2 separate regions of the Homo sapiens genome follow, and region 2 is linked to region 1. The links come from fine-mapping of genetic effects on gene expression. A gene starts in region 1. The other region holds a variant in brackets. All regions are shown on one strand. Distances are between the middles of the regions.

Region 1 (15,872 bases):
TTTCATAGGCTCACTTTCCTCACTGACAAAATGGAAAAAATAATAAACTCATTCTCAAAGCTGTTATAAGAATCAAAAGCTTTTTAAGTAGTTTCCTAAGACAATGCTACACACACTGGGGAGAAAGGAGTCAGCAGCCCTACACTGTAAATGTTTCTGAAGTTTCTGTACATTACGATGTCTAGACATCTTAAAAGACCTTTCTGGCTGCGGAGACACTGCCTTCAGGGTTAGGCAAGTACTAGAGAAAAAAGCAGCCCCAAGTGTGTCTCTGATATGCCAGCTAACCCCTCTGGAGCCATCCTTCCTCCACCAGCCTGGCCTGCACCCCAGGAGGCAAGATTTTTCTGCCTTAAGCCTGAAACCCACCAAAATTCCTCCAACTGCAAGTCCTAAGCTGGTCGCCTTTCTTCACCTTGCCTTTATCAAGAAAATCTCGATAAAGGCTGTGGCCTAAACCACAGCTTTGGCTTCTCCTCCTGGCCACCCTGGTGTCCTCTGACATGGCCCTACGTGGCATGCTGTGCCTCCTGTCTCTAGGACCTGTGAGTATAATAAACTGGTTTTCTTCCTGAGCCTTTCGCTGTCTCCCCTTGTGGCCACACCTGCCTGATCATCTCATAAAGTCATACAAAACAAGTCTCTGAAAAACATGGGGTCTCTAAGCATTTCCCAAACTTTGACTTTTTTTTTTTTTTTTTTTGAGAAGGAGTCTCGCTCTGTTGCCAGGCTGGAGTGCAGTGGTGCAGTCTTGGCTCACTATAACCTCCGCCTCCCGGGTTCAAGTGATTCTCCTGCCTCAGCCTCCCAAGTAGCTGGGATCACAGGCACACACCACCACACCCAGCTAATTTTTGTATTTTTAGTAGAGACGGGGTTTGGCCAAGCTGGTTTCAAACTCCTGACCTCAGGTGATCTGCCTCCCTCGGCCTCCCAAAGTGCTGGGATTACAGGCGTGAGCCACCATGCCCGGCTTCCAAACTTTGACTTCTAAGCTGACCCCATGAATCCCCTGGGCGTGCCCTGAAGAATACAGATCCTGATTCGGAGATCTGGGGTGGGGCCTGAGATCCTGCCTTTCCAGTAAGCTCCCAGGAGATGCCCAGTGCCCAGGCTGCTGGTCCCAGGCCACACTCTGAGTCTCAAGGTTTAAGATAACAAGGCATAGGCCAGGCGCAGTGGCTCACGCCTATAATCTCAGCACTTTGGGAGGCTGAGGCGGGCGGATCACTTGAGGTCAGGAGTTCGAGACCAGCCTGGCCAACATGGTGAAACCCCATCTCTACTCAAAATACAAAAATTAGCCAGGTGTGGTGGTGCACGCCTGTAATCCCAGCTACTCGCGAGGCTGAGGCGGGATAATTGCTTGAAACCAGGAGGCAGGTTGCAGTGAGCCAAGATCACGCCAGTGCACTCCAGCCTGGGCAACAGAGTGAGACACCGTCTCCAAAAAAAACCAAAAAACAAAAGATAACAAAGATAACAAAGCATTTTCACTATTTCACGGACAACTGAACTAAAGCTCAGGAACTTTGGAAGCTACTTTGCAAGTCTAAACCCAGGCCAGGCTGGGACTGGAAGCTGGACATCTCCACTCTAAACCCAGCATCCTCTGCACCCCACCAGACTCTCAGTGTTCACCACGGCCTCAAGTCTGCTGAACAGGATCCAGGGAGAGACCACAGAGAACAGACCAGCCTGGGCAGGCAGAAGTGACTCAAGAGCTAAATCCAGCCACCCTCTCTCTTCTGTGGCTGTTGGATTTTGCAGCCCCCAAACAGCAAGACCAAGCTCGGGTTATTCTGAGCTTAATCTGTCCCCTCGGCTCTGAGAAGGTTTGGAGTCACCTATGCTTCCTGACTTTCCTGGGTGTGCCTTCTTCTCTGGGCATCCCTGCCCGGTGCTCAGCCAGGGGACCCATGCCCATCCCGGATGCACTGAGAAGAGGCTTCCACCTCCCCCAGGGTGGTCCTTCACCTGCTGACAGCCCTGCTCCTCCACGACGCAGCCCTCACCACCCCTTTCTCAAAGGACCCCTGGTTGGTTGTGGCTCAGCCTGCAGCCTCCGCGCCTGAAGCTGAAGTTGTACCCCCATAAAGCTGCACAATTCAAACAGAGCCTGTTGGTCTCCCCGGAATTTGTTCTGTCTCCCCAGGACCTGCCAGTAGACTGTGTTTCTCCACCTCGGCACCGCCGACATTTTGGGCCGGATCACTGTTTGCTGTGGAAGGCTGTGCGCCGTCAGGGGCTTAGTGGCATTCCTGGCCCCTCCTCGCTAGTTGCCAGCAACTGCCTCGCCCGGTGGTATCCACCAAAAATGTTTCCCAACATTGCCACGTGTCACCAGGGGGCAAAACTGCTTCAGGTTGAGAACGGCCACAGCTGGCCATGCATCAGTTCTCAGCTCTGACCCTGCATCAGAACCCACCGAGTTTGGCTCAGAGTTTTAAATGTTCTAGAGTTTGGGTCGGGGCGGTGGCTCATGCCTGTAATCCCAGCACTTCGGGAGGCCGAGGCAGGCAGATCACTCGAGGTCAGGAGTTTGAGACCAGTATGGTCAACATGGTGAAACCCCGTCTCTACTATAAATACAAAAATCAGTCGAGCGTGGTGGCATGCGCCTGTAATCCCAGCTACTCAGGAGGCTGAGGCAGGAGAATCACATGAACCTGGGAGGCGGAGGTTGCAGTGAGCCAATATCACACCACTGTACTCCAGCCTGGGCGACAGAGCGAAACTCTGTCTCAAAAAATAATTAATTAATTAATTAAATAAAAAGTACATGTCCCAGAGTTTGGTGTGGTGTTTTAAATGTCCCAATGCTCAAGTGACACCCAGACCAATGACGTGAGAATCCCTAGGGTGGGACTAGGACTCCCCAAGTGACCCCAACCTGCAGCCAAGGTTGCATAAGATGTCAGCCAGAGGCCCCTCACCTGTCGTGGCAGCCCAGACCAGCCCACGGCTGAGCCGCACACCAGGGGGCATCTCGGGGTGGACGGGAGGCACGTGGTCCCGCATCAGCTTCAGCACCAGCAGCAGCAGCATGCAGACCAGCCCCAGGACGGCGTCACCTACCCTGTGGACAGGCAGAGGACTGGTCACCACCCAGCTCGGCCCAGGCCTACTGCTGACTCAAGCATCCTGCTGCTGCTTAAGCTGAGAGGCACTAAGAAGCTCCCAGGGAGGCCCAATGCCCAGGCTGCTGGTCCCAGACCACAGTGAGTATCACAAGGAAATAAAGCATTTTCAATATTTTCACCATTTCACAGACACTTAACTAAAGCTCAGGAACTTTAGCAAGCTACTCTGCAAGACCAAACACAGACTAGGCTGAGATGTTTTCTCCTAAGCAATATGCATCCCTGTTCTACTTCAAAACTCAATTCAAAATTCAGTAAGTACACAGGCTTGGGCAGGACAGGCAGTGGAGAGGCCCGGGTCATGATGATGGCAGAGCGACGTGCTCACATTTTCACTCCCGTAGCTCTCTGGGACTCAAGTCTATGGAACAGGATCTGGTGAGTGACCACAGGGAATGGGGACCAGCCTGAGCAGCTGATGCTCTCTGCAGGTGGCTCTAGAACAAGTCTGCCAAACCCACAGCCTGTGGGCCATGTGCAGCCTGGGATGGCTTTGAATGTGGCCCAACACAAATTTGTAAACTTTCTTAAAACATTATGAGTTCTTTCAATGATTTTTTTGTAGCTCATCAGCTATCATTAGTGTATTTTAAGACAATTCTTCCTGTGTGGCCCAGGGAAGACAAAAGACTGGACACCCTGCTCTAGACATTCTAGAAGGCTTAGGACTAAACGGTCAGTAAGGCCCCTTTTACATGACAGCCCGTGACGCTCTCTGACTGGTCAGGCTCCGTAATCACTGCTCCCCCATCTGGCCGACCCCTGCCCACTGGTGCCTCTGAAGAGCAAAGAACCCACTGGCTTCCAGCTGGGTTCAGCTGCTGGGAAGCTTCGGCAGCAGATCAGAGGGGAGGGGAAGATGGTCCAGGATCGCCCCCACTCCCTCCAGGCCACAGCACTGGGCAGCCATCTCTATAGCTCCCCTAGATCATTTCCTCCTCCAGCCCCTTCCAGCCAGAGAGGTAGAGAGGCATCCTGCCTTCCCGCTGGATGGTCTGGCAGGGAGGTACCCCTCATCAGAGGCTTTTCTTTTCGGGGGGGCAGGGCAGGGCGGAGATGGAGTCTCACTCTATCACCCGGGCTGGAGTGCAGTGGCGTGATCTCAGCTCACTGCAACCTCCGCCTCACAGGTTCAAGCAATCCTCCTGCCTCAGCCTCCTGAACAGCTGGGACTACAGGCACGCACCATCACACCCGACTAATTTTTGTATTTTTAGTAGAGACGGAGTTTCACCATGTTGACCAGGCTGGTCTTGAACTCCTGACCTAAGATGATCTGCCCACCTGGGCTTCCCAAAGTGCTGGGATTACAGGTGTGAGCCACAGTGTCCGGCCATCAGAGGCTCTTTAAACCACCTGAGGGAAGTGCTTGGGTCGCCTCATCTCTCATCACAGCTCCACCTGCCGTCCCTGCACCACCTGCGTTCTGTCTGGGTTAGCTCCCCACGCCCTGTGTTCTCCTCCTTAACAAATCACAGCCTGGGGGAGACACACTGCCTTCTTTTTCTTTACACAGACTCTCCCCATTCCTGTCCCCCAAGAAAGCTTTGTGGAGAGAGGAACATTGCCCTGCTCCAGCTCCCCAGAGCAGAGCTTCTTGAACTCTCCCCTGCGCGCAGACCACCGGCCTCCTGTTAAAACTGTGGCTCTGATAGGGCAGGTCTGCAAAGGACTGAGAGTCTCATTTCTTGCCAGCTTGCAGGTGCTGCTGATGGGGCTGCTCTGGGGACCCCTGTTTGAGCAGTCACCAGGGGTGGGGAAACTGAGGTGGGGGCCGGGAGAGGAGGTGTGGAAGAAGGAGCTTCCTTATAGGAGGGAGGAACAAAGCCCGGGGTACCTGGTCTCTGCAATCCTGAGGAAGGTGTGGTACACCTGCAGGAAGAACGGCCTGGGGATGTTCTGTAGTCCCAGCAGGTTCTGTCCAAACACAGAGATGCTGATCAGAGGCTATGCTCCCAAACCAAGGCCATCTGTCCCCAGCTCCCCGCCCACCTCCCCTAGGGCTGAGACAGTGTCCCCCGGCCCTGCTCCCAACCCTTATTCCCGGGGCCCATCTTAGGGGCTCAGGGGTCCACCTGCCCACTCCCAACGCCCCCTAGGGCAGGAGATCAAAGCTACCCTCGTGGGAGACAGTACTTCACAATTACTGGGTCAGTGATATGTTTTTCTCTAAATTACTTTTCTCATAAAAAACAATGTAGGTGACCCCACAGCAGGCAGACAGGTTCTACAGCTTGATGGCCAGGGGCCATGGGCTGCCTGGCCCCACCCCCATTGGCTCCAGGCCACTCAGCAGCCAGGCCCCCTGCAGTGTAGACCCTTGCTGCCATTGGCTTGAGAATGTCTCCCTCACTAGGTGCCCCGCCACCCCCCAGCTCCGCTGCTGCGGGAGGAAAAATCTCTTCGTAGTGTGCAGATGTGGAGGGCTCTGAGGGGCTTCAAGAAACCAGCTTGGGGAATCCTCGGCAAAGTAGGAGCCTCCCACCACGATACCAGCTCTGAGGTCCTGGGCAGGAGAAGGCACTCTATCCTGTGTTTTAGTTTAGTTTTTTTTTCTTTAGAGAGCGGCGGGGGGTTGGGGGGTGGGGGTCTTGCTTGCTCTGTGGCCCAGGCTGGATTCGAACTCCTGGGCTCCAGTGATCCTCCCACCTCGGCCTCCCACGTAGCTGGGATCCACAGTGCAGGCACAGCTTGCACTTTAGTTCTTTACATCGCCTGAGACCCAACAGGAGTCAGAGGGGAAAGTTGAGGCCCTGGATCCCATGGCCACAGGCTCAAGGACCCTGCCCTAAAACTGCTGCGCACAGGGTGGGTGGGGTTAGGACATCCTGGGGGGCGGACTCTGGGACTGTTGGGGTAGGGTCTTCTGTCCTGGGCCTGTCAGGAGGACGCCCCTCCCCCCAGATGGCTGCAGAGTCCCTGGGCGGGGCTAGGGTTGCCAAGTATGAAGGCATGAACAAGGGATGCCTTCCACTCTCCACTCTCCGCTCTCCACTCTCACTGGGATCCTACAAAAGAACATTCTTGACACCAAAAATGATGTTTCCAGATTAAAGAACCAACCATGCCCTGAAACAGCATTTGCCAAGCTAACCCTGAGAGATGCGTGTAGATAACGTACAAATCACGCTCACCCACACCTAAGTTGGTCCCTCCTCTCTCAAATGGAAATAATGATAAATCTACCTCCCGGGGTGTGTTGAGAATTACACATGGAGAGTGTCCTGCCCAGTGCCTCGCACGTAGCAAGAGTGCAAAAAGTGTCTACTTTATTCTCACACTCACACACTCACACTCTCACACTCACACTCTCACACCCACACCCACTCTCACTCACTCACACTCACTCTCACACTCATACACTCACACACGCGCGCGCGCACTCACACTCCCTCACACCCACACCCACTCTCACACTCTCACTCATACACACTCACACTCTCTCACACACACACGCACACTCACTCACACACGCACTCACTCACACACGCACACACTCACACACTCCCTCAAACCCACTCACACTCTCACACACTCACTCATTCACACACTCACACACACTCATACACACTCTCACACACACTCTCCTGTCCTTGGTCTTCTCATGGTACCTCCATCAGGGAAGACTGTCTCAGGCCAGCCTGGAACAGGGCCTGGCTTGGGGAAGATGACCTGCAGTGACACAGGGTCAGGAGGCAGCATGTGACCCTAGTCTGCCATGAGGGCCGCATGGTCCCATCTGTGGAATTGGGCTCACTTCACTCCACACACACCCCACTGAGCACCCCCCTACTGCACCAGCCCAATGCTGGGCGGCCATGGCTGGGAGAAGGACAGTTCCTACCCTCGAGGAACTTACAACCCAGCAAAAACAGAATAAATTACACCCTCAGCTGATGACTGATTTTAGTACTTATTATAAATGTTTTAAAAGAAAATATAAAAGGCATGGCATTTAAAAAATATTAAACAGAAACCAGAAAAAAAAGCACAAAACAAAACCATCTAACTAAATTGGCATGGGGAAATAATTTGCCTATAGAAATTCTAGCAGCATGCTCATGACTGGTGGGGCCTGCTGGGTGTGCCCAGTGCAGGGAGAACAGAGCCACGTCACAGAGCCAGCCAAGCACACTGGCACGGAAACTCGGGCAAGAGCAGGGGGATGGAATTACCGGCCCCCAAGTTACCCGCTGTGAAATCCAACCATCACGTGACATCCCTCCCAGGAGGGTCATTTTATTAACAGGGGACCCATGAGAGCACCGCGTGCTTCTTGACCCATGGAAGACAATCTGAAACAGCAAGACGTCCACTGGCCACAGGGATCAGGACTGGCCTCAGTCCTGCTCCCGCCATCCCTGTGCCAACGAGCAGTGGCCAAAGAGCAGTGCCCTGGGTGGGCGCCGTGCCTACCTTGATCTGTCCAAAGCCGATGGTGACGGCAGCAGCAGAGGTGAAGCCTTTAATGACGGGGTAGGAAATGAAGTCCAGCAGGAACCCTGGCCAGCCAAGAGGGGACATCGAGCTGGTCCCGGCTCCACCCAGTCCCAGAGGATGAGGGGAGATGTGAGCTGGGGAAGGTGGCAATGGGTGGGATTGGGGAGCAGATACCGCAGCTAAGGACTGGGGGTAACACACCCTGTTTGGCTGTTTTTGGAGAGCAGAAAAGGGAGACTGGGGTCTGAGGCCACAGGCACTTCTCCAAGTGTCCTGGCCTCTAAGCAGAAAAGAGTAGACTAAGAGCCAAGTGCCCCACCCCCTCCACCACCCACCCACCTACACACACACACATACATACCCACACCCCAACACGCACACACACGCACACGGGGATAGACTTGAAATGCAAACAAGCAAATGCTGAGGTCGAGGGCATCCCCTTGGCAAGAAGGTAGAGCCTCACCCAAACGCAGGACCCCCATGGCCAGCTGGATGCAGCCGGACAGGAAGGCCAGCAGCACAGCGTAGGCGGGCTCATGGAAGGTGTAGAAGGAGACCAGGAGGGACATAATGGCGGTGGGGCCCAGAGTCACATCCCGGGAGGTGCCCAGGAAGAAATACACGAAGCAGCCCATGAAGGCAGAGTAGAGGCCATACTGTGGGGAGAGAGGGTGGTGAGCACTCAGGAGGCCGAGGCCCATCCACCAGCTCCCTAGTGTGCGTGTCCAAGCTCGGGATGTGTGGGTGTCAGCTGTGTCCAGGCCCAGGTTAAAGGTGCACCGCCCTGCCCTGTGGGTGGACCTGCAGTGATCAGGAGGCCACTTTTTTAGCAGCACTCAACTGGGGCCTCAGGGTGCAGACAGCCAGGCAGAGGGGTCGGTGCAGGCCCGTGTGCTGTGTCCAAGTCTGAGGAAGCATTCTTTTTTTTTTTTTTTGAGATGGAGTCTCGCTCTGTCGCCCAGGCTGGAGGGCAGTGGCACAGTCTCGGCTCACTGCAAGCTCCGCCTCCCGGGTTCACGCCATTCTCCTGCCTCAGCCTCCCAGGTAGCTGGGACTACAGGCACCCGCCACCACACCTGGCTAATTTTTTGTATTTTTAGTAGAGACGGGGTTTCACCCTGTTAGCCAGGATGGTCTCCATCTCCTGACCTTGCGATCCGCCTGCCTCGGCCTCCCAAAGTGCTGGGATTACAGGCTTGAGCCACCGCACCCAGCCTAATTTTTGTATTTTTAGTGGAGACGGGGTTTCACCATTTTGGTCGGGCTGGTCTTGAACTCCTGAGGCCTCCATGAGTCATCTCGCTGGCCCCTCCATAACCAGCTCAGTGTCTGTGTGTGCCAAACAGGCATAGGAGCCTGGGTCGGCCCAGAGACAATCTGCGTCACACACTGTAAACCAAAGGTTCCTTGGGGCCCAGGGGCTGGAAACCTGGAATCGCTGATGGTGTCTGGGATTGATACTGTGTATTCTGCACTGTTTCTGAGATATGGCTGGCAGCAGGGTCAGACGCCTCACCTGGGGCGGGAGTCCAGCCACTTCAGCATAGGCCAGCGCCTGGGGAATGGCAGTGAGGCCAACTGAGAGGCCGGCGACGAAATCCATCTTCAGCCACTGCAGGGAGTAGCTGGGCAGCCACGCCAGGATGGGCAGCCTCCTCTGCAGGGCCGCAGGGGAGCAGCAGCAGGCGCTCGGGGCCATCCCGGGGCCAGAGGACCTGGCCTGACCCAGCGCCGTCACCGAAGAAGGCATCTCTACGGTGGGGCTGGGGGGTGCAGGTGACACAGACCAGCAGTCAGAGCGTGGCCTTTGAAGAACCCGGCAACACTGGTCAGGGTCGGCGGGTGTCAGGAGAGGTCACTATGGGTCTCCCCTCCCCAGGGGGGCGAACGGCTCTAAGAGGAAGCCAACAATGTGTGCAAGATGGGGACTGGGCCAAGACTGGAAGGCCCACCCCGTCCCTCATCACCCTCTCTCCCTGAATCCCCCCCGTGCAAATCCTGGGTGCCTTCTGTCCCTCCATCCTCAACTCTCCCAGATAAGAAACTGATAAGCGATTCCTCATTGAGAAGTCTGAAGACTAATTAGGCTCAACACTTCTGGCCCCTGGAGAACCGACTTCCTTTGCCTTTTTTTCCGTCTCCCCAGGGAATTTAACGGGGAGCAGCGCAGAGAGAAGCTGGGCCCGCGGGCGCACCGTAGGCTGGCGGGGGGTGCGGGTGGCAGCCAGGAGATCCAGCGGGGCTCCGAGGTTTTCCAACTGCGCACCAAGGCGGGCTCCACCCGCTACGGTGGACTGCGGCGCTCGAGGGAGAGTGGGGGGGTCCTCCGCTCCTGAGGCCACGCCTCGCTCAGCCCCCACCTGTGGCTTTCACAGCCCTGGAGTTCTAGTTGCTTCTGGGAGGACATCAGAGGCGCCCGGTTAATTCAGGTGCGCAGCATCTTCCAGGGCCCCGGCGCCCGCGCGCAGAGCCGCCACCCTCACCCCCAGCCCCCCACGCCCCCGGCCGCTCCGCTCCGGGCAAAATCCACTCCCCGGCCCCCGGCCCCGCCCACAAGGCCGCTGGCTCCGGATCCTGGGGTCTCCGGAGGAGACCCTGCGCCACCTGACCGTCCGCGGTCCCTTGGCCCCGAGCAAGGCCGAGGGCCGCGGGGACCCGGGTAGGGACGCGGCGGGGGAGTGGTCCCCACGGGAGGCCCCCGCACTTCAGGACTCCGCGCTGGCCCCCGCGTCGGCTGCCCCCGGCGACCCCGGCCACTGTCCGCTCCCCCTGCCCCTGGTCCCCGCTCGCCGCCCTCGCGGGCCACGGACTCACCCACTCGGCGATGCAGCTTGGGGTCTCCTGGCGTCGCCGCAGCTGGGTCCGCAGGAATCGCCGGGGACAGGCCGGGGCGGGGTCTGGCGCGCACGTGACCGGGGTCGGGGCAGGGGGCGGGGCCGAGCGGGAGACCAGAGAGCCGGAGCCGGATCCCGATCCCGAGTCCGAGCCGCCGCCGCCATGAGCTGCCCCGTGCCCGCCTGCTGCGCGCTGCTGCTAGTCCTGGGGCTCTGCCGGGCGCGTCCCCGGAACGCACTGCTGCTCCTCGGTGAGTGCCGGCGCCGCCCCCCCACGCCCACCTGCGGTGGCCCGGGGAAGTGGCCACTGGCCTCCTCCCCACCCGTGGTCAATGCTGACCCTAGTGTGCCCTGCCCTTGTATCCCCCGCTGCCATTCCCTCTCGTCCTCCTCTCTGTGCCGCCCCCAGACTCTTCACGGGTGTCTCCCCAGAGAGGGCAGCAAAGGCTGGAGGAGTGAGCCCCAGCATCCAGCACCCCTACACTTACCTCGTGCCGCCTGTCCCACCCTCCTCTGACCCTGCCCAGCCAGGGCTCAGGGGTCCACGGATCTCAAATCCCTCTTGGGAGGGGATCCCAGAGGAGGGGCTGGTGCTCCGGTCCCCAGAGACTGCAGACAGGGTGCCCTCCTGGCTCTCATTTCCGACCCCAGAGCCTGTGTCTCAGCTGTCTTTTCCCTTATCCCAAGGGCACAGCCCTCCACCACCCACCCACCACCGTCTCCCCCAACCCCAGTCCCTCTCAGAAACCCCAGGTTCCTCCAGAGCAAGCACCGTGCTGCTCACAAGACTTCCGGTTTAGGTAATCAAGGCTCTGGCTCATGACAAGTGACAAGGCCAAACCCAAGGCCTGCGATTCTTTCCCCTTCTGAGGTCTGGCGCCCTGCCAGTTGCCCTCTTTCTGATTAATTTTGTGGTCTCTGGGCGGGGGTTCGGCTCACTGTAACATAAACAGCTCTCCTGCCAACTCCTCGCCTCCCAGAAACACAGCAGAGAATCTGCATGGACCCTCACCTGCGGATCAGAATTCCTACAGGAGGCTGTCAGAGTCCAGGCTATGCGGCCCCTGGGCTAGGGCCTTTCTTAGCACGGACTGCCATGGATCGGCTTAAACAGAAATGTATTTCTCACAGTTCTGTGGGCTGAAAATCCAAGGTCAGGGTGCCAGCTTGGTTGGGTTCCAGTGAGGGTCCACTTTCGGCTTACAGGTGGTCACCCTCTCACTGTTTCCTCACATGACAAGCGGATGGGGGTGGTCTCACTTCCTTTTCCTTTCTTTTTCCTTTCTTTCCTTTTTTTTTTTTTTTTTTTTTTTTTGTGAGACAGGGTCTCACTCTGTCACCCAGGCTGGAGCACAGTAGCACAATCACAGCTCACTGCAGCCTCAATCTCCCAGGCTCAAGCGATCCTCCTGCCTCAGCCTCCCAAGTAGCTGGGACCTCAAGTGCACATCACCATGCCTGGCTAATTTTTGTATTTTTTGTAGAGACAAGGTCTCACTGTGTTGCCCAGACTGGTCTCGAACTCCTGGGCTCAAGCAATCTTCCTGCCTTGGCCTCCCGGGTGCTGGGCTTACGGGCATGAAACACTGCACCCGGCCCTCTCTTTCTTTTCCTTTAAGTCCACAGTCCTGTCAGATCAGGATCTCATCCTTATGATTCATTTACCCTTAATTAAGGACCCTGTCTCCAGATACAGTGATGTTGACGTTAGGGCTTCAGCATATGAATTCTGGGAGGACACAGTTCAGACCATAGCAGGCCCACAGCCAAGTGCCGAGACACTCTGGGTTTGGAGAAGGGCAGCTTTCTTCCTGGCCTGCGGGTACGGAGCACAGCCCATCCCGCTCTCCCTCCAGGTTTACGTGGCTGCCATGTGCTCACACCTGTGGGTACTGTGGGGTGGAGGATGGAAGCCCAACTGGAAGGTGCCCAGCCTCCTCTGTCCATCCATGGACCACATTGCCTCTGAGGGAGCTGGGGAAAGTGTTGGTCTGGGGGTTCCCACCAGCCTCTCCTGTGGTGCCCCCAGTGTCCTCTACTCCAGAGCAGGGGGAAGAAGCTTGGTGTGGTTGTAGGAGTTCAGCGGCCTGTCCCTGTTTCCTGCTGCCCAGTGTGTGGCCCTGGGCACTGCACCTCACCTTTCTGGGCCTCAGCTGCTTTGTGTAGGATGAAAGGGTTGAAATAGACAACCTGCAAGGTCACTAGGCCTTTGAGATGGCATCAGTGAGAAGCAGCGGTGGGACGCACACACATAGAGCTTTAGACGCGCCCTGGGCGAGGCTCTCCTGCCCTCTGCCCCATGCGGTTTCCGCTGAGCCCAGAATTGCCCAGCAGTTCTGTGGCCATGCGCTCAGCCGCTGTCTGCCTAAATGCCTAGCCGGCTAACACGCCCACCCAGGTAGCATGCCTGCTGGGGTATCATCAAGCTTGTTGGGTCATCATGCCTGCATGAGTATCTTGCCCACTTGGGTACCATGCCTGCCTGCTAACATGCCTATGCAGGTACCAGGCTTGCCTGGGTACCATGCCCATCTGCTTATACCCACCAGCTATCAGTCCAGCCTGTGTACCATGCCCACCTGCCAACATACCCACCGGGTATCATGCCTGCTTAGGGTATCATCAAGCTTATTGTGGTATGATGCCTGCTTATCATGCCCACTTGGATACCATGCCTGCCTGCTAACATACCAACCACGCATCATCCCTGCTGGATACCAGTCTACCTGCTAACATACCCACTGGTATCAGGCCTGCCTGGGTACCATGCCTACCTGCTTATACCCACCATCTATCAGTCCAGCCTCCATACCATGCTCACCTGCCAACATACCCACCATCTATCAATCAGTCCAGCCTCCATACCATGCTCACCTGCCAACATACCCACTGGGTATCAGGCCTGCCTGGGCACCCTGCCTGCTTGCTGATATACCCACCAGGTATTGTGCCTACTAGGTACCATGCCTTCTTGCTAACATACCCAGTGGGTATGGGGTCTTCTGGATACATGCCTGCCTGCTAACATACCCACCAAGTATGAGACCTGCTAACATGCCCTCTGATACCATGCTTGCCTGATGTACCCACTCGGGTGTCATGCCTCCTAGGTAATGGAGTGCTCTGTCACGATAGCATTTCGCGCTGAGTGTTCACACTGAGCCAGTACCATGCCCACCTGGGTGTCTCGCCTTCTGGCATCACAGTCCCAGCCTCCCTCACTCCCAGTGCTGTTTCTCGTGACCGCAGCCGACCGTGCACTCTCTGTCTCCCACCTCACGCAGCGGATGACGGAGGCTTTGAGAGTGGCGCGTACAACAACAGCGCCATCGCCACCCCGCACCTGGACGCCTTGGCCCGCCGCAGCCTCCTCTTTCGCAATGCCTTCACCTCGGTCAGCAGCTGCTCTCCCAGCCGCGCCAGCCTCCTCACTGGCCTGCCCCAGGTGAGGTGCAAGGGGCGGGAGGAGGGGGTGGGCAGGGAGTAGACAGGCTGCGTCCGGGGCCCAGGCCTCTGCCACGTCTCCCATCCCTGGGATCCCGGGGGGTGTTGCCCACTTTCCCTCCCACCTCCAGGAGGAGGCACAGCCTATGGCTGTGAGTGCAGACTAGGGGCTCCGACTCACCCGCCAGCCCTGGCTGCACTGCTGTGTGTGGCCTTGAGCAAGTCACCTACCTCCTTGTGCCTCAGTTTCCTCATCTGTAAGATGGTGGGTGTAATGAGATGCCACTCTAGTTATGGAGATTGGCGGGGCTAATGCTTTGTATGTAAACACTTAGTGCGAGGCCTGGTGGGCTCACTCAGCGTGAACCGCCATGGCCACAGTGTCCCAGGAACGCCATGGTGCAGGGAGCGGACACCGTTAAGGCACACATGCTCCTATTTTACTGTGGTAAAATGCACAAACATCAACATTCCCATCTTAGCCATTTTTCAGCGCACAGTTCCGGGGCATTAAGTGCATTCACAGTGTTATGCAGCCATCACCACCATCCATCTCCAGAACTTTTCCATCTACCCAAACAGAAGCTCTGTCCCATGAAACACCAGCTCCACATTCTCCCTCCCCATCCCCTGTCTCTATGAATCTGACTGCTCCAGGGGCCACATAAGAGTGGAATCACACAGGACTAGTCCTTTTTTTTTTTGAGTTGGAGTCTCACTCTGTCACCCAGGCTGGAGTGCTGTGGTGCGATCGTGGCTCACTGCAGCCTCTGCCTCCCCGGTTCCAGCGAGTCTCCTGCCTCAGCCTCCCGAGTAGCTGGGATTACAGGTGCGCGCCACCACGCCTGTCTAATTTTTGTATTTTTAGTAGAGATGGGGTTTCATCATGTTGGTCAGGCTGGTTTCGAACTCCTGGCCTCAAGTGATCTGCCCGCCTCGACCTCCCAAAGTGCTGGGATTACAGGCGTGAGCCACCGAGCCCGGCCCCCCTTTTGTGTCCTTACTTCACTCAGCACAATGTCCTCAGGGTTAACCATATGCTGTAGCACGAGTCAGAACTTCCCTCCTCTTCAGGGCTGACTCATATTCCAGTGGATGGATGGGCCCCGTATTTTGCTTCTCCATATTCATCCGTCAGTGGGCACTTGGGTTGCTGCTACCCTTTGGCTGTTGTGAATAAAGCTGCTATGAACATGGGTGTTTAAGGACACTTGTTCTTTTAGTCTCACTCTGTTGCCCAGGCTGGAGTGCAGTGGTGTGATCTCGGCTCACTGCAACCTCCACCTCCCAGATTCAAGCCATTCTCCTACCTCGGCCTCCCGAGTAGCTGGGACTACAGGCGCCCGCCACCACGCCCAGCTAATTTTTGTATTTTTAGTAGAGACGAGGTTTCACCATGTTGGCCAGGCTGGTCTCCATCTCCTGACCTCGTGATCCACCTGCGTTGGCCTCCCAAAGTGCCGGGATTACAGGCGTGAGCCACCACGCCCGGCCGGCAGTCTGAGTTTTTAAAATGTACACATCTTTTACAATATAAAATAACTAGGTAATAAAACAAGGCCTGACCCTGTCTTTTTCACTCTGTAACGTGTGATCATAACAGAAGAGTTCAAAAGTACGGATACGCAAAAAGAACATCAAGGCCACCCTCGTGTCGGTGCACGCCCTGCAGGTCCCCTTCTTTCTGGCGAAGTCCTCCTTTCACGGGAGGGACCCATGGGCCTATCGGGCAGGGAGTGGGAGGTACAGCCAGTGTCTCTGGGTGCTGGCCACTCGAAGTCTAAATCAGGGCCCCGAGAAGGCCCCTGGGGATGGGAGGGCCGTGGGAGAACAGGTGCGGCAGGCGGGCTCTGGCTGTCCGGGGGCCCCGGACCTCATGCGCCTTTGCTGGCAGCATCAGAATGGGATGTACGGGCTGCACCAGGACGTGCACCACTTCAACTCCTTCGACAAGGTGCGGAGCCTGCCGCTGCTGCTCAGCCAAGCTGGTGTGCGCACAGGTGAGGAC
Region 2 (8,983 bases), 23 kb after region 1:
AGGGACTGCTTTGCAGCCTGCAACTTAATCCTGTTTCCTATAGGCCCAAGGGAGGATGGCGGAAGCCAGGGTTTTCTTCCTTCCAAAGGATCTGGGAGAGTGGCACCCTTCTCCTCAGCCATCCTCCAGGGCACAGGGTCCTAGCCCTCCCTCTGTCCTGTACTCCTCTCCTGAAATTTTTTTTTTTTCCTGAGACAGAGTTTTGCTCTTATTGCCCAGGCTGGAGTGCAATGGCACCATCTCGGCTCACTGCCACCTCTGCCTCCCGGGTTCAGGCGATTCTCCTGCCTCAGCCTCCCGAGTATCTGGGATTACAGGTGTGCGCCACCACACCCAGCCCCATGATTCTTGAAGACCAGATCCTGGCCTAAATGAGTGGCATCCCCCTGCCCCAGCTGACCAACTAGCAGCAGCTCCCAAAGCCCCTCACCCACTTGGAGCCAGTGGCCCCTGTGCCAGCTCACCAGGCCTCACCCTCCATCCTGCTGGGGTCCAACTGGCCCCTGTCAAAGGACAAACGCAGAGGGCTGGCCTTGGCTTTGTCCATACTGACGATGCGGACCAGCTTCTGTGGTCCCCCAGAAGATGGCTAAAGGAGGGACAGAGAAAGGATGAGGAGGAGCTGTTGAAGCCATCAACAGGAATGGGAATTCAGGGGAGATGATTGGCACTAGGGCGACCTGGGAGTGATGCAGAGGCGCAGATGCTCTGAGAACAGCCTGAGGTGTGTCTGCACTTGTGCAAGAGCCTGCAGGCTGGGCAGGGGCTGCAGACCCTGCCCTGGTTTGAAGGGGTGCAGAGGAGAGACAGGTGGGGTTACCCTCCAATCAGCAGCCCACTCTCCACACAGTGCCTCCTGCCACCCTGCCAGCACCGAGCCCCTCTTCCAGCCCACCCCAGTGGGGTCCAGGCCCCTCCCTGGAGCCTCACCTTGCGGGTCACGGTGCACTGCTGAGTCATGTCCTGGATGAGGGCTATGAGCTGCTGCTGAGCCCTGCAGAGACCAGCAGAGGCCCTGACCCAGCTGCCTCCTGCCAGGTGAGCAGGGCAGGGGAGAGCCGAGCAGGGGAGAGTGGGGGAGATGGCCGGGTGGGAGAGAAGGGCCTCCACCTAGAGCTCCACACATCCCTTTGCTGCAGGCTGGAGCGCTCCATCCTGGCGGCCATGCCAGTCTCCAGAGCTTTCAAAAGACTCCAGGGCCTCGGCCCACCCCTGGAGATGCTGATTTACTTGTCCTGGGGCGGGACCCAGGGGGTGCTGTTGAGCAGCCAGCGTACAGGGCCCCACTCCAGGACCTCAATATTCATGGTGGGTCCCTGGCCTGCAGCCTGGAGTCACCGAGAGAGCTGTTAGAAATGCAGAGTGCCAGGCCTCTCCCTGGACCTGCTGGCTCCGATCCCCAGGGGACTTGAGTTTGCAATGAGTGATGGGGGTGCTGAGCTCAACACTCCTGCTTTCTAGCACTGTGCGTTCCGTGCACTTGAAACTTGGAGCCTCCCATAGGCTGATCTAGAACAATGGTTTCCTTTTCTTTTTTTTTTTTTTTGAGACAGAGTCTCACTCTGTCGCCCAGGCTGGAGTGCAATGGCTCAATCCCGGCTCACTGCAACCTCTGCCTCCGGGGTTCAAGTGATTCTCCTGCCTCAGCCTCCTGAGTAGCTGGGATTACAGGCACCTGCCACCACGCCCAGCTAAGTTTTTTGTATTTTTAATAGAGACAGGGTTTCACCAGGTTACCCAGGCTGGTCTCGAACTCCTGACCTCAGATGATCCACCCGCCTCGGCCTCCCAAAGTGTTTGGATTACAGGTGTGAGCCACCATGCTCGGCCTAGAGCAGTGGTTTTCAATGGAGCAAGGCAGGGGGCAATGTCACTCCCCAGGGAGGGTGACCAGCTGTCCCTGCTTGCCCAGGACCGAGGGGCTTCCCTGCAAGTGGGGCTTTCAGTGCTAAGACCAAGACAGTCCTAGGAGAACCAGGGGACCCTTGGCAACCTATAGAGACATTTCTGGTTGTCACAGCTGGGGCATGGGAGTAGTCCCGGCATCCTGGGTAGGGCGGCCAGGGATGCTGCTCTATATCCTGCAGTGCCCAGGACGGCCCCACCACAGACGGGGATCCAGCCCCAAACGTCCATGGTACCAAAGCTAAGAAACCCAGAGCTAAGAAACCCAGATCTAGAATGTTCTAGAATGAACATTTCATTTGCAATATATAAAGCATCCATCACAAAGAAACAACATCTTCAGCAGTGATCTTGGCAGGCTTCCCTCCTTAGGGGGGTCTCACCACGCCCACCCTCTATTGCTGGGCAGGAGGAGGAAGCCGAGGCAGGCTGGGTGCCATTTCCCTGTGGGCCTCTCTGGGGACGCACCGAGCTCGAGGCAGCTGCTCACCTGGAGTAGTTGGGGATGGTGCCGTGCGCGGCAGTATCCTTCATGGTGTAAGAGTTCACGCGGTGGGCATGCCAGCAGCCGCAGCCCTGGAACATGGTGTCGGTGACGTGCAGGACCTCGTTGCAATGCACCTGCAGCTCCCCTTTGGCCCTGCCCTCCATGGCCAGGTTGACCCGGATGTAGAATGAGTCCCCCGAGGTCGCCACTTTGGCCTCCAGGTCCTGGAGTAGCCTCTTATAACCTGATAAAAGGGGACATGAGCCACAGATGAGCCACAGATACGAGCCTCTGCGAGGAAGGTTGCAGAAAATTAAAGTAGGAGAGAAGGAAGGACCCTCCCAGTCTCAGAAGCTGCTCTGGCACTGGAGTCAGTGGGTGGGAGGTTTCCAGCTGGCTTGGGGGCCTCCTGGGGACCTGGGGCACAGCCTGGCTGATCCTCTCTTGGCTCTGGGGGTCCCTGGCTGCTGGGCGTGCAGAAGAACCACCAGGGACTTAAGGGTCATGGAGTCTGGCCAGGCAGCTGTGCACACGAGAGGAGTGGTATGTGTACCGTCCGTGTTGACCTTCACAGACAGGCAGCAGAAGCCGTCCACCCTCCTGAGAAGCCCCACGGCCTCCTCCAGGGTCGTGTCCTCCAGGACTGCCTTGAACAAGGGCTCTGAGGCTTCGTAATCAACCTGAGGGCAAGTCGAGAAGGTCAGTCTCTTTCCCCCGGGACTCTGAATCCAGCCAGAAGACAGAAGGCGCTGAGGGCACTGAGGCGAGGCGCGGGCCAGCCCTGCCGTAGGACCACTGCCTGCACGCCTTGGTCAAAACAAAGCCACACACCAGAGCCTCTGTGGGGCCTTCACACCTCTAGTGATGCGTGCTACACATAGTGCTGGCCAGAGAGTCAACTGCCAACCCTTCCCCAGTCGAGATCGGGGGTTCTTTGTGATAAGCACTTTCCTGTCTTGAAAAAGAAAAGAAAAGAAAAGAAAGAACCTCGGTTCTAGAACATTCAAGAGCATTCTAGATAGAGGTTTCTTAGCCTTGGGATCATTCTGTGCTGCTGCGGGCTATACCGGGCCCTACAGGATGCTGAGTGGCATCCCTGGCCTTCACCTACCCGATGCCCTGGCTCTCCACCCACAGCCTTCCCCACTGTGAAGGCCCACCCCCCAGGGCTTCCACCATCCACTTCATTTCTTCTCAATATTGTTCTAAGCTTAGGAGAGTAGATATTTTTACAATAAAAATTAAGATGTGTTTTAACACCATTAGAATCTAATTGGCCCCCTTAGGATATCGGGACTATCTCCCTGAACATCGTCAAGGGGCTCTGTTGCTTGAACTACCTCAGAGCTGATAATTGGGAACCTTAAGAGCAGGGTTCCCCAACCCCTGGGCCACATACTGGTACTGGTCCATGGTCCATCAGGACCCGGGTCACACAGCAGGAGGGGCGTGGTGGGCAAGTGAGCATTACGGCCTCAGCTCCACCTCCTGTCAGCTCAGCACAGCAGTAGATTCTCAGAGGAGCATGAGCCCTATCGTGAACTGTGCAAGTGAGGGATCTAGGTTTCACGCTCCTTATGAGAATCTAATTCCTGATGATCTGTTACCGTCTCCCATCACCCCCAGATGGGACCGTCTAGTTGCAGGAAAACAAGCTCAGGGCTCCCACTGATTCTGAATTATGGTTCAGTGTATGATTCTTTCATTACATATTACAGTGTAATAATAATAGAAATAAAGTGTACAATCAATGTAACGTGCTTGAATCATCCCAAAACCATCCCCCACAACCCGGTCTGTGGAAAAGTTGTCTTCCATGAAGCCGGTCTCTGGTGCCAAAAAGGTTGGGGACTGCTGCTTAAGAGGACAACTAGAAATGTAAAGAAGGGCTGGGCATGGTGGCTGATGCCTGTAATCCCAGCACTTTAGGAGGCTGAGGTGGGTGGATCACTTGAGGTCAGGAGTTCGAGATCAGCCTGGCCAACATGGTGAAGCCCTGTCTCTACTAAAAATACAAAAGTTAGCCGGGTGTGGTGGCGGGCACCTGTAATCCCAGCTACATGGGAGGCTGAGGCAAGAGAATCGCTTGAACCCAGGGGGTGGAGGTTGCAGTGGGCCAAGATCGAGCCACTGCACTCCAGCCTGGGCGACAGAGCAAGACTCTGTCTCAAAAAAAAAAAAAAAAAAAAAAAA[AT/T]GACATGTAAAGAAAGGCTTCCCGGGTCATGTGGAGGACGTGAAGGACGCTTGAATTAGGTGCTCCATGTGCTATCATTGGAGCCCTAGGGGAGCTCAGCATTTGGACAGCCTGTTCCAAGGGGGCAGTGAGGGGTGCATGGAACACTCCTGCCTGAGGGGTTCAGACGCATCCTCTCCCCGCCTCTGTGCTCACCTTCCCACCCCAGAGCCCCCATCCCCAGTCCCCTCCTGGAGGCCGCAGGGTGAGCCTCTGGAATGAGGTGAAGCCCATCTTGCACATTTCTTGGTTTAAAATTTTTTTCATATTAAGAAAGCACTGTGCTTTCCTTTTTCTTTTCTTTTTTTCTTTTTTGAGACCGAGTCTCACTCTGTCACCCAGGCTGGAGTGCAGTGGCACCATCTCAGCTCACTGCAACCTCCGCCTCCCAGGTTCAAGTGATTCTCCTGCCTCAGCCTCCTGAGTAGCTGGGATTATAGATACCAGCTATTTTTTTTTTTTTTTTGTATTTTTAGTAGAAACGGGGTTTCACCATGTTGTCCAGGCTGGTCTCAAACTCCTAACCTCAGGTGATCTGCCTGCTCCAGCCTCCCAAAGTGCTGGGATTACAGGCATAAGCCACCGTGCCTGGCCTTTTTTTTTCTTTTCTTTTTTTTTTTTTTTTTTTTGAGACAAGGCTTTGCTCTGTCACCCAGGCTCGAGTGCAGTGGTGCAATCTTAGCTCATTGCAGCCTCAATCTCCTGGGCTCAGGCATCTGAGTAGCTAGGACTACAGGCATGTACCACTGTGCCCAGAAGTTTTTTTTTTTCCTAAAGTTTAATAATTCTGCTTTTAGGCCACATCAAAGTCACCCCCTGACCATGCAGGCGCCCACCACCACACCTGGCTAATTTTTGCATTTTTAGTAGAGACGGGGTTTCGCCGTGTTGGCCAGGCTGGTCTTGAACTTCTGACCTCAAGTGATCTGCCTGCCTCAGCCTTCTGCTGGGATTACAGGCGTGAGCCACCACACCTGGCCAGGTTGTATATTTGTGTCCATTTATCTTCTCAGCAGTTTTGTGCGTTTCGTAACAACAACAAAAAAAAGTTTTAGAAAATGTCCCCAAATTAGCCGGGCACGGTAGCGCATGCTTGTGGTCTGGTCCCAGCTACTTAAGAGGCTGAGGTGGGAGGATCAATCGAGCCTGGGGAGGTCGAGGCTGCAGTGAGCTGTGATCGCACCGCAGCACTCTAGCCTGGGTGACAGAGTGAGACCCTGTTTCAAAACAACAAACAAAAAAAAAGAAAGAAAAGAAATGCCCCAGTGGTTAAAATAGTGAATTTTATGTCACGTGTATTTTACTGTACACACCCAAAGTGACCACCCAGAGCAGCCCTGTCAAGGGGCCTCATGCAAAGACCCCTGGTCAGAAGCGCCGCATGGCAGCAGCACCACGGGTGACATGCTGGGTTCTGCACGGCACGACTCTCATCTATAAATGAGCAGAACGCTTTACGTCAGCCCAGGAAAGAGCAGAGGCCCAGCCCAGAGTGGATCTGCATCGTCTGGGGGAGGTGAAGTCTGCCTGGGTCACCCCACCCGCTGCCACTGTCCCCATGAGGAGCCCGGGGGACAGGAGGGGCCTCGCACGGCTCACCATCACAATCTGGGTGCCCGGGCGCAAGGCCATCTGGTCCGCCGCCGAGCCCGGGGTGACCCGGTGGATGAAGATGCCCGTGAGGTTCCCGCCGATGACGCTGATCTGCTCCAGCAATGCATCCCCCTGGAACGCCAGCATGGTGACCTGGCTCAGGATCCTGCGGGCTGGCCTCCGCCGCATGAGGACGCCGCTGCAGGCCGGGAGACGACCGGCTTGTGCACTGCCCAGAGCAGGAGAGCCGGCAAGGCCACCTCCCCATTGCTTCCCTCTGGCCCCAGTGTTCTGGAATTCTCCTCCCCCTCCATGGCCCCATGTGCTTGGAAAGGCTGTTGCCTCCCATTGGTAATAGGACACTCACCCTCTGCTCTGCCACTCCCTGGCCCTGGTTCCCCAGCCAGCCTCGGAGGATTCCCACCTGCTGCTTACCTCTCCGAGACATCAAGCCTTCCAGGGGAGACTGGCTGCAGGCTGCTTTCCAGCTGCGGAAGGTCTGGGAGGAAGCCAAGAGCTCACAGATCTTGGTCACCCCACTGCTGATGGGGCGTCCTGTAACCTCCTGTAACCTCAGCCCCTTCTTCACAGATCTTGGTCACCCCACTGCTGATGGGGCGTCCTGTAACCTCCTGTAACCTCAGCCCCTTCTCCCTCAGCCTCAGGCCCCACTGCCTGTTCCATCCTTTGTGCTGAGGCTGAACTTTCTCTTCCTCCACCCCTTCCTCAATGCTTGGGACCTTGATTTCATCTTTCCTAAAATCACTGTAACTAGTGAGGAGCTGCAACTGGGAGGGTCTGACCACCACATGCTATTTTGTGATATTTGAATGAGTTGCCAACATTTGAAAGACAGGGAGGTTTCACCTAAAATCTGGATTTCTGGCTTCACTTGAAAAAATATCTGCTGTAACCCTGGGGCTGCATTTCCGCACTGACCTGTATTTCTGCATGGACCTGCATTTCAGGACTGGCCTGCATTACTGCATTGACCTCCATGTCTGCGTGGGCCTGCACTGCACTGGCCTGTCTTTCTTTCTTTCTTTCTTTCTTTTTTTTTTTTTTGAGACAGAGTCTCACTCTGTCGCCCAGGCTGGAGTACAGTGCCGTGATCTCAGCTCACTGCAACCTCCGCCTCCCGGGTTCAAGCAATTCTTCTGCCTCAGCCTCCTGAGTAGCTGGGACTAGAGGCATGTGCCACCACGCCCAGATAATTTTTGTATTTTTAGTAGATACGGGAGTTCACCATGTTGACCAGGCTGGTCTCGAACTCCTGACCTCATGATCCACCCACTTTGGCCTCCCAAAGTGCTGGGATTACAGGCATGAGCCACCACACCCGGCCCTGGCCTGCCTTTCTACATGGATCTGTATTTCTTTTGTTGTTGTTGTTATTGTTGTTGAGACTGAGTCTCGCTCTGTCGCCAGGCTGGAGTGCAGTGGTGCGATCTTGGCTCACTGCAACCTCCACCTCCCAGGTTCAAGTGATTCTCCTGCCTCAGCCTCCTGACTAACTGGGACTACAGGTGTGTGCCACCATGCCCAGCTGACTTTTGTATTTTTAGTAGAGACGAGGTTTCACCATGTTGGCCAAGATGGTCTCGATCTCTTGAGCTCATGATCCGCCCACCTTGACCTCCCAAACATGGACCTGCATTTCTACCCAGACCTGCACTACTGTACTACACGGCATTTCCACACTGGCCTGCATTTCCACACTGGCCTGCATTTCCACACAGGCCTGCATTTCTGTGTGGCCGCAATCACTGGCACTGGCCAGCAGCTGCCTGCTCCTTACCCCAGACTCCTCTGCTTCCCAGCTGGTGGTGGCAGGTCTCTGAGTTGTCAATCCTAGGACTAGAGGCTCCCCAGGGTCTCCCAAGCTCTAGCATTTTACTGTACAGCCTGTGAGCCCCCGAACCAGGGAGCAGCCTGCCAGGGTCGACGGCTGCAAGTCTCACTCTGTGAACCACACAGCAGAGCCAGGGCCAGCAGAGACCTGAGAGTTCCCTAGGCCTGGCTCACAGGCAAAAACCCATTGGGATCACATTCAAAGCCAATGAAATGAGCTGTGTACTCTGGATGTATTTGAGGTCAATTCCACTAAAAGTATATGCAACCAGGGCATTACGCAGAATCCTCACAGAGGAAAAATAAAGAGGAATAAGCCCCTCTTCTCATCTCACATCTAATTTAGATATGCCTTGGGTGGTCTCTCTCGATTTATCACGATTATAAATAAAAACGTGTATGAGTCCCCAAAGATGAAGATTTCTGATTCTGCGACCCACAGAAGGCACAGGGGCAGCGCAGGGCACTTGCGCCCCCTGGTGGCCATGGGGTGAATTCCAAATGGGGAGCAAAGCACCTACTGTGTGCAAGGCCCAAGGCTGGGAGCCGGTCGCGCCGAGGTGGAAAGGATTAAGGCACCCACCCATGACGGGCCCATGGACTTGGGAAGCAGAGAGGGCCGGTCCAATCACAAACAGAAATGAGCTACAGGAGAAGCGCGAGGCCTCAGGGCCAGCGCCTGAGAGGAGAGATGCTCCCCGCAGGTAGATGTCACGCTGTGCCTCGCCTCAGCCTGGCACCACTAAGCCACCCTGCCTGCTGCCTTCTGAAACCACTGGGAAGCCCAAGCGTTACAGATCAGAGCAGGGGGCTGGGTGCTGAGCAGGGCGTGGATCAGACACAACTCCCCTGGCTCTAGGGAAAAACACAAGGACACCAGCAGACAGAGCGCAGCCGGCCTTTGGCTTACGCTG

Evidence for each region. PIP is the estimated chance that this variant, and not a neighbour inherited with it, causes the effect.
Region 2: its variant is fine-mapped to the expression of SGSH in whole blood (INTERVAL, PIP above 0.99). The same link has a PIP of 0.9 or more in monocytes.

Annotation. Positions count from the first base shown.
Region 1 is chr17:80,215,025-80,230,896 of GRCh38, reverse strand. It overlaps SGSH (N-sulfoglucosamine sulfohydrolase), which reads left to right and starts at 10,564. Exons shown (of 8, transcript NM_000199.5): 1 at 10,564-10,671; 2 at 13,705-13,865; 3 at 15,759-15,864. The coding sequence starts at 10,584. SLC26A11 (solute carrier family 26 member 11) reads right to left here and starts at 10,470. Exons shown (of 18, transcript NM_001166347.2): 1 at 10,401-10,470; 2 at 9,782-9,981; 3 at 9,103-9,349; 4 at 8,050-8,242; 5 at 7,560-7,645; 6 at 4,981-5,060; 7 at 2,937-3,079. The coding sequence starts at 9,336. RefSeq lists enhancers at 4,090-4,591, 7,070-7,907, 7,908-8,745, 11,403-11,522 and silencers at 10,243-10,312, 10,333-10,602.
Region 2 is chr17:80,195,833-80,204,815 of GRCh38, reverse strand. CARD14 (caspase recruitment domain family member 14) reads right to left here. Exons shown (of 24, transcript NM_001366385.1): 15 at 6,654-6,717; 16 at 6,225-6,417; 17 at 2,946-3,072; 18 at 2,396-2,636; 19 at 931-994; 20 at 475-589. It also overlaps a transcript of SGSH not described here. Among named protein-coding and RNA genes, the nearest start is that of SGSH, 20 kb to the left of the region's middle. RefSeq lists an enhancer at 1-230. The variant AT/T (reference allele first, on the strand shown) is at 4,586.